2 separate regions of the Homo sapiens genome follow, and region 1 is linked to region 2. The links come from fine-mapping of genetic effects on gene expression. A gene starts in region 2. The other region holds a variant in brackets. All regions are shown on one strand. Distances are from middle to middle.

Region 1 (4,383 bases), 89 kb after region 2:
CACCCGCCACCACGCCAGGCTCATTTTTTTGTATTTTTTTAGTAGAGATGAGGATTCACCATGTTGGCCAGGCTGGTCTCGAACTCCTGACTTCAAGTGATCCTCCCACCTCGGCCTCCCAAAGTGCTAGGATTACAGGCGTGAGCCACCGCGCCCGGCCTGTAGTGTGTTTTTAGATGATGTCATCTACTCCTAGCTCTTTAATTAAGCACCATGTGTCAATGACTTTCTATTTTCTAGTTCCAGCCGTGGCCTCTCTTGAAACCACTCCCTGCCAGCTGGTTCCTCAGTGGCCAGCTCCACCTGGATATGTCCACAAAGTTACCACCTTAGCAAGTCTGAAGTCCAATTCCCGAGTTGTTTCTACTCTCCACCCAGCCCCAACCTATCCCTCCCCAAGGATCTTCATCTTACTTGTCCAGGTGACAGTAGGGCTGTCATCGGGTTCATGTCGAAGCCCACAGCCACTTTTGTCACTTCCCCTCTAAGACCACGCCTCTCCACCTGGACTGCCCACCTCCTCTCTCTCACCACTCATTTTCCAAAAAGCAGCTGGTCTGCTACCTGCGTTGGGAGATACTGACTATACTAATCCTCATGTCATAGCTCGGGGAGCTGACGTCCTCAGAGGTGAAAGGATTTGGTTAAGGTCAAGGAACGAGTGTTTGTGCAGAGTCCTCCATTTCCAAAACCAAACCCAGTGGTTCACCCGGGCCTCTCCAGACACAGATGTCGCGACGCTGGGCCTCCAGCCAGGTGCCCTTTTCAACTCCCTCCCGTTCGCTGTGGAAGCCACCCACCTGCCAACCTCATGTCCACTTCTCCTGCTGGGTTGGGACCGCCGGCAAGTGCACTGTTTGGGGGCAAAGCGGAAGGACAGGTTTGGGTGGGGGTCAGGGGCAAGCCTGTGCGGGACCCCTGCTGGGGGCGGGCGCGATCGGTGCTACGACCTGTTTGTCCAGCCGCCCGGCCAGGCAGGGCTCCTCGGAAACGCGCGGGGAAACCCTGCCTGGCCAGGAGGGGCCTCAGGAACCCGTTGGCTCACGATCTTGCCCACAGGAGCCTCCGGGGCTGGGACGAAGATGTGGTTCTCCTGGGCTCGGGCCGTTCCTCCGGGCCTGGGGGCTGGCGATGCGGGCCGGGCCGGAGATTTCTCTGGCCGTGGGGAGACGTGGGCTCGGTCAGGGAGGTTCCCTGTCAGGCCCGCCGACCCGCTCCGCCCCGGGAGAGGACGCAAGGCCGCTGCGCAGGGTGGCCAGGCAGGCCCGGCAATGGCGGCTAAGGGCGGGGCCACAGCCCGCCGGCCCCGCCCCCGGCAGCAGCTGCGCCGTCTGGCTCCACGCAGGCCCCGCCTCCAGACCCGCCTCTACCGCTCGCGCTGGCCGCCGCATGGGAGGGGCCTGAACCTGTCCCGCCCCGAACCTGTCCCGCCCCTGGATCCCTCGTCGGCCCCACCTCCGCAGTGCGTTCAGGCTGAACCCACCGGCCGCCGAGTGGGAGGGGCCCACGTCGGTCCCGCCCCGGAAGTCTCCCCTCGGCCCTTTCTCGGGTGGGAGAGCCCTGCCTACCCAGGCTTAGAGGGCTGGGGCTGCGCTTGCACCCTGAGGTCAGATTTGTGAGTCGTGGGAAGACGCAGATGGATCTGGGGCAGAATTAGAACCTGTTCCAAAGTTGATCCATGCGCTTTGTAAAGGCAAGGGAGGTACAGAGGCGCAGATAGGGAAGACCGCAGGATCCAGCGTGAGCCTCTGGCTGCCTTTCCTTAGGGTCTGTTTTCTGTCCAGAAGCGCGTTCCTGCTGTCTCTCGTTATCACTTTTATAATGGGACGGGGCGTCTCAAACTATTTCGACATCCTTGAAAACTCTTGCCTGCTCCGCCTGCCTGGTCTCTAACACCCTCCTCCTCAGAGCTGCTCAAGCTGTGTTGTTTACGCCACACCCCACCCTAAAAGCAGAGGAGAATACAACTTTCGGGGGCAGTGGAGGGGGGAGTTTAGCGCTATAACCCGAGGCTTTCACAGCAAACCAGAAT[T/G]TATTTTGAGGCCTCTCAGGTTCAGCTTTCAAGTCACGTGACTTTCGCGTCCTACACAACTCTTATTTTCACTTGAAAACAAGTGTGACGTCGTGAATTCCCTAACAATAGGAAAAAAGAAGGCTCCAGAAAGAGCGGTGCTTGGCTTTCCCAGCGGCTCCAAATGGTGCCCGGCACCCAGCTGGCTGTATGGACCTGGGGTGGTCTCCGGCCGCAGGCAGACGCGGCCCTTCGGCCTTTCTCCAGTCACCCCAATTCTCCCTGACTGCCTGGCTATCTCCCCTCCGCGCCTGCCCGCACGCTGCCCCCAACACTGCCCGGGCTCCCTCTGCCCATGAGAACACGGGTCAAGCTCCCGTCCCTTCTGCCCTGCCGGCTGCCCCAAGTGCGCCCTGACCACCTACTGCGCTGGCATGGCCGGGGCCACCCTGACAGCTGATCCATCATCTGTCTGGAGAGCAGCAGCAGGGCCCAATGAGAACCACGGAAACCTCCCTGCCCTTTGACCCAACTTACGGGAATCTCCTACCCTTAGGGAAACAATGCAAAATATAGAGAAAGTTTATAGAGCCGGGCATGGGAGAGCCCTGGTTAGAATCCAGCAGCTTCTATACTGGAGTACTCAACAGGGTCAAGGTCCCTTTCAGCTGCCTGCTGCTGGGGCCAGGGCTTTGCATTTGCGTTTTGTCATGGAATTTGACAGCCTCTCAAGTAATTATGGTAACGAATCTTGGGCTCCATGCCCTCCTCAGGGGGGCCCAGTCGAAGAAGCTCCAGGTTACTCACACCCTTGAGCTGCCAGCCGGTGTTTTTCAAAGACAATATTTACATGTTGTTCAGAGCAGGCATTTATGAAAGTGTTGCTTTAATGAGTCCCCCTGAGCATTCCGAGACAACTCTCCCTTCCTTGGGGACACCACGTGGGTGATGGGCCAGAGGCCTGGGATTCAGTTCCACGTCTTCCGTGCTTCCTGGGGCAGCCTTGCAAAAGTCCCTTATTTTCTCTGGGATGGTTTGGATTCCTGTGGGGGTCTGGCCAGCACGGTGACTAGAGCACATGGTCTGTCACCATCCAGGCCAACGTCCTGGGGTACACTCACAGTCATCTGTTCTTCCAGGTCAGCCCTCATAGATCAGGGCAGCTTCAGCAGTTCTCAAATAGCAGATGTTACAAAATGGGGGTGGGCAATCCTGCAGCAGACGTCTCTGCACTTTCTGTTAGAAGGACACCCCAGGTATTTTTGAGCACTGTTCTGAAGACGGAAAAATCCAGAGTATACATACACTTAAAGCTGGGAGGGGCACCTGCCGGGGAGAATGCATAAGGGATAGAAACAAAAATAGAGGGCCGAAGCCTCTGCCAGGCAGAAGACACTGAGTTCTCAGCAAAGAGAACACCTTTCAGTGCTGTGGTCAAAGGGATGTCAAGCCTCCTGAGGCCCGGAAAGAGCAGGAAACTGAGGGCAGAATTGGAAAAAATCAAGTTACAGACACACACCACGGGATAACCTCTATACAGAGAGGAGCACACCCAAAATAATACTATATATTTATAGATGTACTTTTGTATTGGGGTAAGACATATATAACATAACATTTGCCATCCAAATCATTTTAAGTATACGATCCTGTGGCATCAGTTACATTCACAATGTTGTACAACCATCACTACTATCTTTTTGTGTGTGTGTATATTACTTTTTTTTTTTTTTCCCCCGAGACAGAGTCTTGCTCTGTCTCCAGGCTGGAGTGCAGTGGCTCAATCTTGGCTCATTGCAACCTCTGCCTACCAGGTTCAAGCAATTCTCCTGCCTCAGTCTCCTAAGTAGCTGGGATTACAGGTGCCTGCCATCATACCCAGCTAATTTTTATATTTTTAGTAGAGACGGGGTTTCAACATGCTGGCCAGGCTCGTTTCAAACTCCTGAGCTCGTGTTCTGCCGGCCTTGGCCTCCCAAAGTGCTGGGATTACAGGCGTGAGCTACTGTGCCCGGCCATGTATTACTTTTATGGGCTCATATATATGTCCATAGAAATATAGAGTTCTTTTAAAAATTCTATCAATAGATATTTCTTTTTCTCTTTTCTTTTCTTTTTTTTTTTTTTTTTGAGTCAGAATCTCACTCTGTTGCCCAGGCTGGAGTGCAGTTGCGTGATCTCGGCTCACTGCAACTCCTGCTTCCCGGGTTCAAGTGATTCTCCTGCATCAGCCTCCCGAGAAGCTGGAACTACAGGCGTCTGTCACCATACCCGGCTAATTTTTTTGTATTTTTAGTAGAGATGGGGTTTCACTAGTTGGCTAGGCTGGTCTCGAACTCCTGACCTCAGGTGATCCGCCTGCCTCGGCCTCC
Region 2 (4,383 bases):
TCTCCCGGGTTCACGCCATTCTCCTGCCTCAGCCTCCCGAGTAGCTGGGACTACAGGCGCCCGCCACCACGCCTGGCTAATTTTTCATATTTTTAGTAGAGATGGGGTTTCACCGTGTTAGCCAGGATGGTCTTGATCTCCTGACCTCGTGATCCGCCCGCCTCGGCCTCCCAAAGTGCTGGGATTACAGGCATGAGCCAAAGTGCCCGGCCCTTTTTTTTTTTCTTTTTTTTGAGATGGAGTTTCGCTCTTGTTGCTCAGGCTGGAGTGCAATGGCACGATCTCGGCTCACTGCAACCTCCGCCTCCCAGGTTCAAGCAATTGTCCTGTCTCAGCCTCCTGAGTAGCTGGGACTACAGGTGCCCGCCACCACGCCCAGCTAATTTTTGTATTTTTAGTAGAGACGGGGTTTTGCCATGTTTGCTAGGCTGGTCTCAAACTCTTGACCTCAGGTTATCTGCCCGCCTCAGCCTCCCAGTGTTGGGATTACAGGCGTGAGCCACCACGCCCAGCCAGGATTTCAATGAACAAAATGCTTTTACCCTAAAGATGAAGTCCCCAGACAGAAGGTGCTCATTGGTGCTGTCAACATTTGGTGATTGGTTCAGTTTAGATATCACCTCCTGGTGGGAGCAGCTTCATCGGTGCCCCTCTCCTTACATCCCTCCCAGTCCCATGTCTCAACCTTTGGAATATTCATGACCCTGTATCATGACCTGCTGTCCTGCATGTCCTCTAGACCAAACTGTCAACTTCCGGGGCAGAGTCCAGGTGCCTGGCCCATAGCAGGTGCTTCAGGAAGCCTCCAGGGCCATCACTCCAGGGACCCCTAGCAATGCAGGGAAGAATAAAAGCAGCCACAGGTGGGTTTCTTCCCTAAGCATGGAAGCAGCTCAGCAACAGAGTCCTGGCGGAGGCAAGATTGCCTTCCGCATTCCAGAGGAAGTATTTGCCTTGAAACTATGTAACAAAAGTAACAGAAACATAATAGACATGCTTTCCTTTTTAAGTTTGCTGGATTCTCCTGGGATACAGTGAAGCTCCAGTGAAAACCTCTCTCCTCAGCTAGTTAAGGCCTGGAAATGGCCACTTGGGGGTTTCCCTAAGCACCCGAAACTCAGTGAGCCCCCAAGTGACCTCGTCTCCCAGTCCCCAACTCAGAGAGACCCAAAAGCTACAATCTTCTTTGACTGTATTGTCAGACCCACTTCCTCTCTCCAGCTCAACTGCCACTATCCTAGTCCTAGTCTGAATCACATGTGACAATCATGACTACAATCTTTTTTTTTTTTTTTTTTTGAGATGGACTCTCACTCTGTCGCCCAGGATGGAGTGCAGTGGCGCGATCTCGGCCCACTGCAACCTCCGCCTCGCGGGTTCAAGTGATTCTCCTGCCTCAGCCTCCCGTGTAACTGGGACTACAGGTGTGCACCACCATGCCCAGCTAATTTTTGTATTTTCAGTAGAGATGGGGTTTCACCATGTTGTGCAGGATGGTCTCGATCTCTTGACCTCATGATTCGCCCGCCTCGGGCTCCCAAAGTGCTGGGATTACAGGCGTGAGCCACAGCGCCCGGCCCGTTAGGGTGTCTTTGATGCCACGCTTCGCTCTGGGTTTTCTCCTTCCTCTTTGATTGCTCCTTGTCCGATCTCTTTTCTGGACCCTTCTCCTCCTGCCCAATGTAAGTGCTGGGTGTTCCCCTAGATGCTATCCTGAGCCCGCTTCACTCCTCGTTCTAAGGGATTACAGTCTCCTCTCACCTGTATCAGGGAGGGTCCATCTGCAGGAAAAAGACACCACTTTTGCAATTTTAAGGAAAAGGATTAAAACAGGGATTGGCCGGGTGCGGCGATGCGCGCCTGTAGTCCCACTTTTCCGGAGGCTGAGGCGGGAGGATCGCTTGAGCCCGGGGACTCGAGACCAGCCTGGCCAACATAGCTAGACCCCGTCTCTAAAGAAAAAAAAAAGACAAAAGAAGAGAACAACAACAAAAAAACCAAAATAAAAATAAAAATAAAAACGGACGGGCGAACGCGTCGGGTGGGCGTAGGGTTCCGCGAAGCCTCCCTGTCCCTCTTGTCTCGTCCTAGTCGGTCTAGCTGGGCCCCATCCCCTTTCCCACTCGGAGCGTGAGCGCCTGGAGACACGTACAGCCAACCAGTGAGAAGGAGTGGCCGCGAGTGGCATGCACTTGGTCCAATTACCTGCGGCCCTGCCGGTCGGCCCGCGCTGGGGCCAATGGAGGTGCGAGGCGGGGCTCGGGCGGGGGCAACGGTCACCTGATCTGCGGCTGTCGAGGCCGCTGAGGCAGTGGAGGCTGAGGCTATGATGGCGGCCATGGCGACGGCTCGAGTGCGGATGGGGCCGCGGTGCGCCCAGGCGCTCTGGCGCATGCCGTGGCTGCCGGTGTTTTTGTCGTTGGCGGCGGCGGCGGCGGCGGCAGCGGCGGAGCAGCAGGTCCCGCTGGTGCTGTGGTCGAGTGACCGGTGAGCGGGCCGGGGTGGGATGCGCTGTGGCGGCTGAGGCGCCCTCGCCCGACTCCGGCGCTGTCCTAGGCGAGGGGTGGTGAGGCCCGGAGGTGGACTGTTCCTTGCTCGGGGGCTCGCAGCGAATCTGCCGGCGACAGAGCTCCAGTCCACATGCGCCCCCGTCTGACAGCACCTCTTCTGTGCCCTGCCAGGGACTTGTGGGCTCCTGCGGCCGACACTCATGAAGGCCACATCACCAGCGACTTGCAGCTCTCTACCTACTTAGATCCCGCCCTGGAGCTGGGTCCCAGGAATGTGCTGCTGTTCCTGCAGGACAAGGTGCGCCCGCCCCAGCCCACTCTCCCCCGGTCATCGGGAGGCAGCCAGGCCCCCTCCCCCCATGACACTGACGCCCATTCCCCAAGGGAAGCTTCAGTGACCTTGTCCCAACTGTAGGGAGGTGTGGGTCGTCTCATGGGAAGGCCTGTAGTAAACGCTTCAGTGGGCATGGCGACAGCCTCGGAAATGGCACCAACTTGATTGGAGGAAGCGACGGACCAGAGGCCAGGTACCTACTGAGTACCAAGCACTTTGGATATCTGACTTAGTCCAATATGGTGGGTGGGGATTATCGTCCCTGTTTGTTTATAGATGAGAAGACTGAGGCTGGAGGTTAAGTGACTTGTCCAAGCTCATACAGCTAATGGGTGGCAGAGTTGTAATTCTAGCTGTGATGATCATAATAATGATAATTGGAAAATGCTCACCTGTTTAGTGCTTTGTAGGCACTTGCTACACTGATGTCATTATCTTGGTTTCACTGCCAAGGAAAGTAAGGTTTGTCGAGATACAATGTTTCACTACAGTTGATAGATACCACTTTGGTTCCAGCCTGAGTCTGCCAATCCTCCCTCCCAATTGGAGCTCATAACCCGCATGCTGTTTTCCTTCCCATCCAGGATCTTTGCCCCAAAAGCAGGCGTGGAGACCATGAGATGACTCTAAGATAGCAAGTCTCTGCTAGGCCCTCCCTTGTTGGTGGCCTGTATGGCTCATTGCCCTTGTAGTCTCCCTTGGTTGCTGTGTGGGCAGATGGTGGTGGCCTGAAGTCTTTTCAGGAGGTGGTAAATAATATAGTCAAATAGGAACTGAGTCCTAGTTCTACCATGTAACCAGCCATTGGAGGCATGAAATAATCTTTGTGAATGACAGTTTCTACATCTGTAAAATGAAGACACCACCTATATCAGAGGGCTGTGAGTGGGAAATCTTTTTTTTTTTTTTTTTTGAGACGGAGTCTCGCTCTGTTGCCCAGGCTGGAATGCAGTGGTGCAATGTCAGCTCAGCTCACTGCACCCTCCGCCTCCCGGGTTCAAGCAGTTCTCTGCCTCAGCCTCCCGAGTAGCTAGGATTACAGGGCGCCCGCCACTACACCCAGCTAATTTTTGTATTTTTTTGTATTTTTAGTAGAGATGGGGTTTCACCATGTTGGCCAGGCTGGTCTTGAACTCCTGACCTCGTGATCCACCCACCTCAGCCTCCCAAACTGCTGGGATTACAGGCGTGAGCCACCGCGCCCGGCCTGTGAGGGGGAATTCTTATAATCCACATAAAACATCTAGCCAGGATCCCCCAGTCTTAGGGCATTCACCCATTCATTCATTTGCCCAATATGGAAAGCCTACTATGTGCCAGGTATTGTGAAGTGTTGGGGATATGGCAGTGAGCAGAAGAACCCAAGCCCCCACCCTCAGGAAGCTGACATTCTTGTGAGGGTGGCCAGTAAATACTAAGTCGGTATAGGATATGATGTCAGTGTTACGGCCTTTAGGGAAGGAAGCAGGCTAAGGGGACAGAGTGACTGGGATGCTATTTTAGATAAGGGTGGTCAGGCCAGGCCTCATTGAGGAGGTG

The links. PIP is the estimated chance that this variant, and not a neighbour inherited with it, causes the effect.
Region 1: its variant is the best candidate, but not a certain one, in a credible set for the expression of ATP6AP1 in whole blood (TOPMed, PIP 0.62).

Annotation. Positions count from the first base shown.
Region 1 is chrX:154,514,960-154,519,342 of GRCh38, forward strand. It overlaps FAM3A (FAM3 metabolism regulating signaling molecule A), which reads right to left and starts at 1,273. Exons shown (of 9, transcript NM_021806.4): 1 at 801-1,273. The coding sequence starts at 813. It overlaps LOC124905229 (a long non-coding RNA gene), which reads left to right and starts at 521. Exons shown (of 2, transcript XR_007068357.1): 1 at 521-756. RefSeq lists enhancers at 541-1,164, 1,165-1,787 and silencers at 1,138-1,547, 1,763-1,919. The variant T/G (reference allele first, on the strand shown) is at 2,033.
Region 2 is chrX:154,426,367-154,430,749 of GRCh38, forward strand. It overlaps ATP6AP1 (ATPase H+ transporting accessory protein 1), which reads left to right and starts at 2,311. Exons shown (of 10, transcript NM_001183.6): 1 at 2,311-2,487; 2 at 2,682-2,808. The coding sequence starts at 2,327. ATP6AP1-DT (ATP6AP1 divergent transcript) reads right to left here and starts at 2,113. Exons shown (of 2, transcript NR_103768.1): 1 at 1,762-2,113. RefSeq lists an enhancer at 2,027-2,528 and a silencer at 2,104-2,213.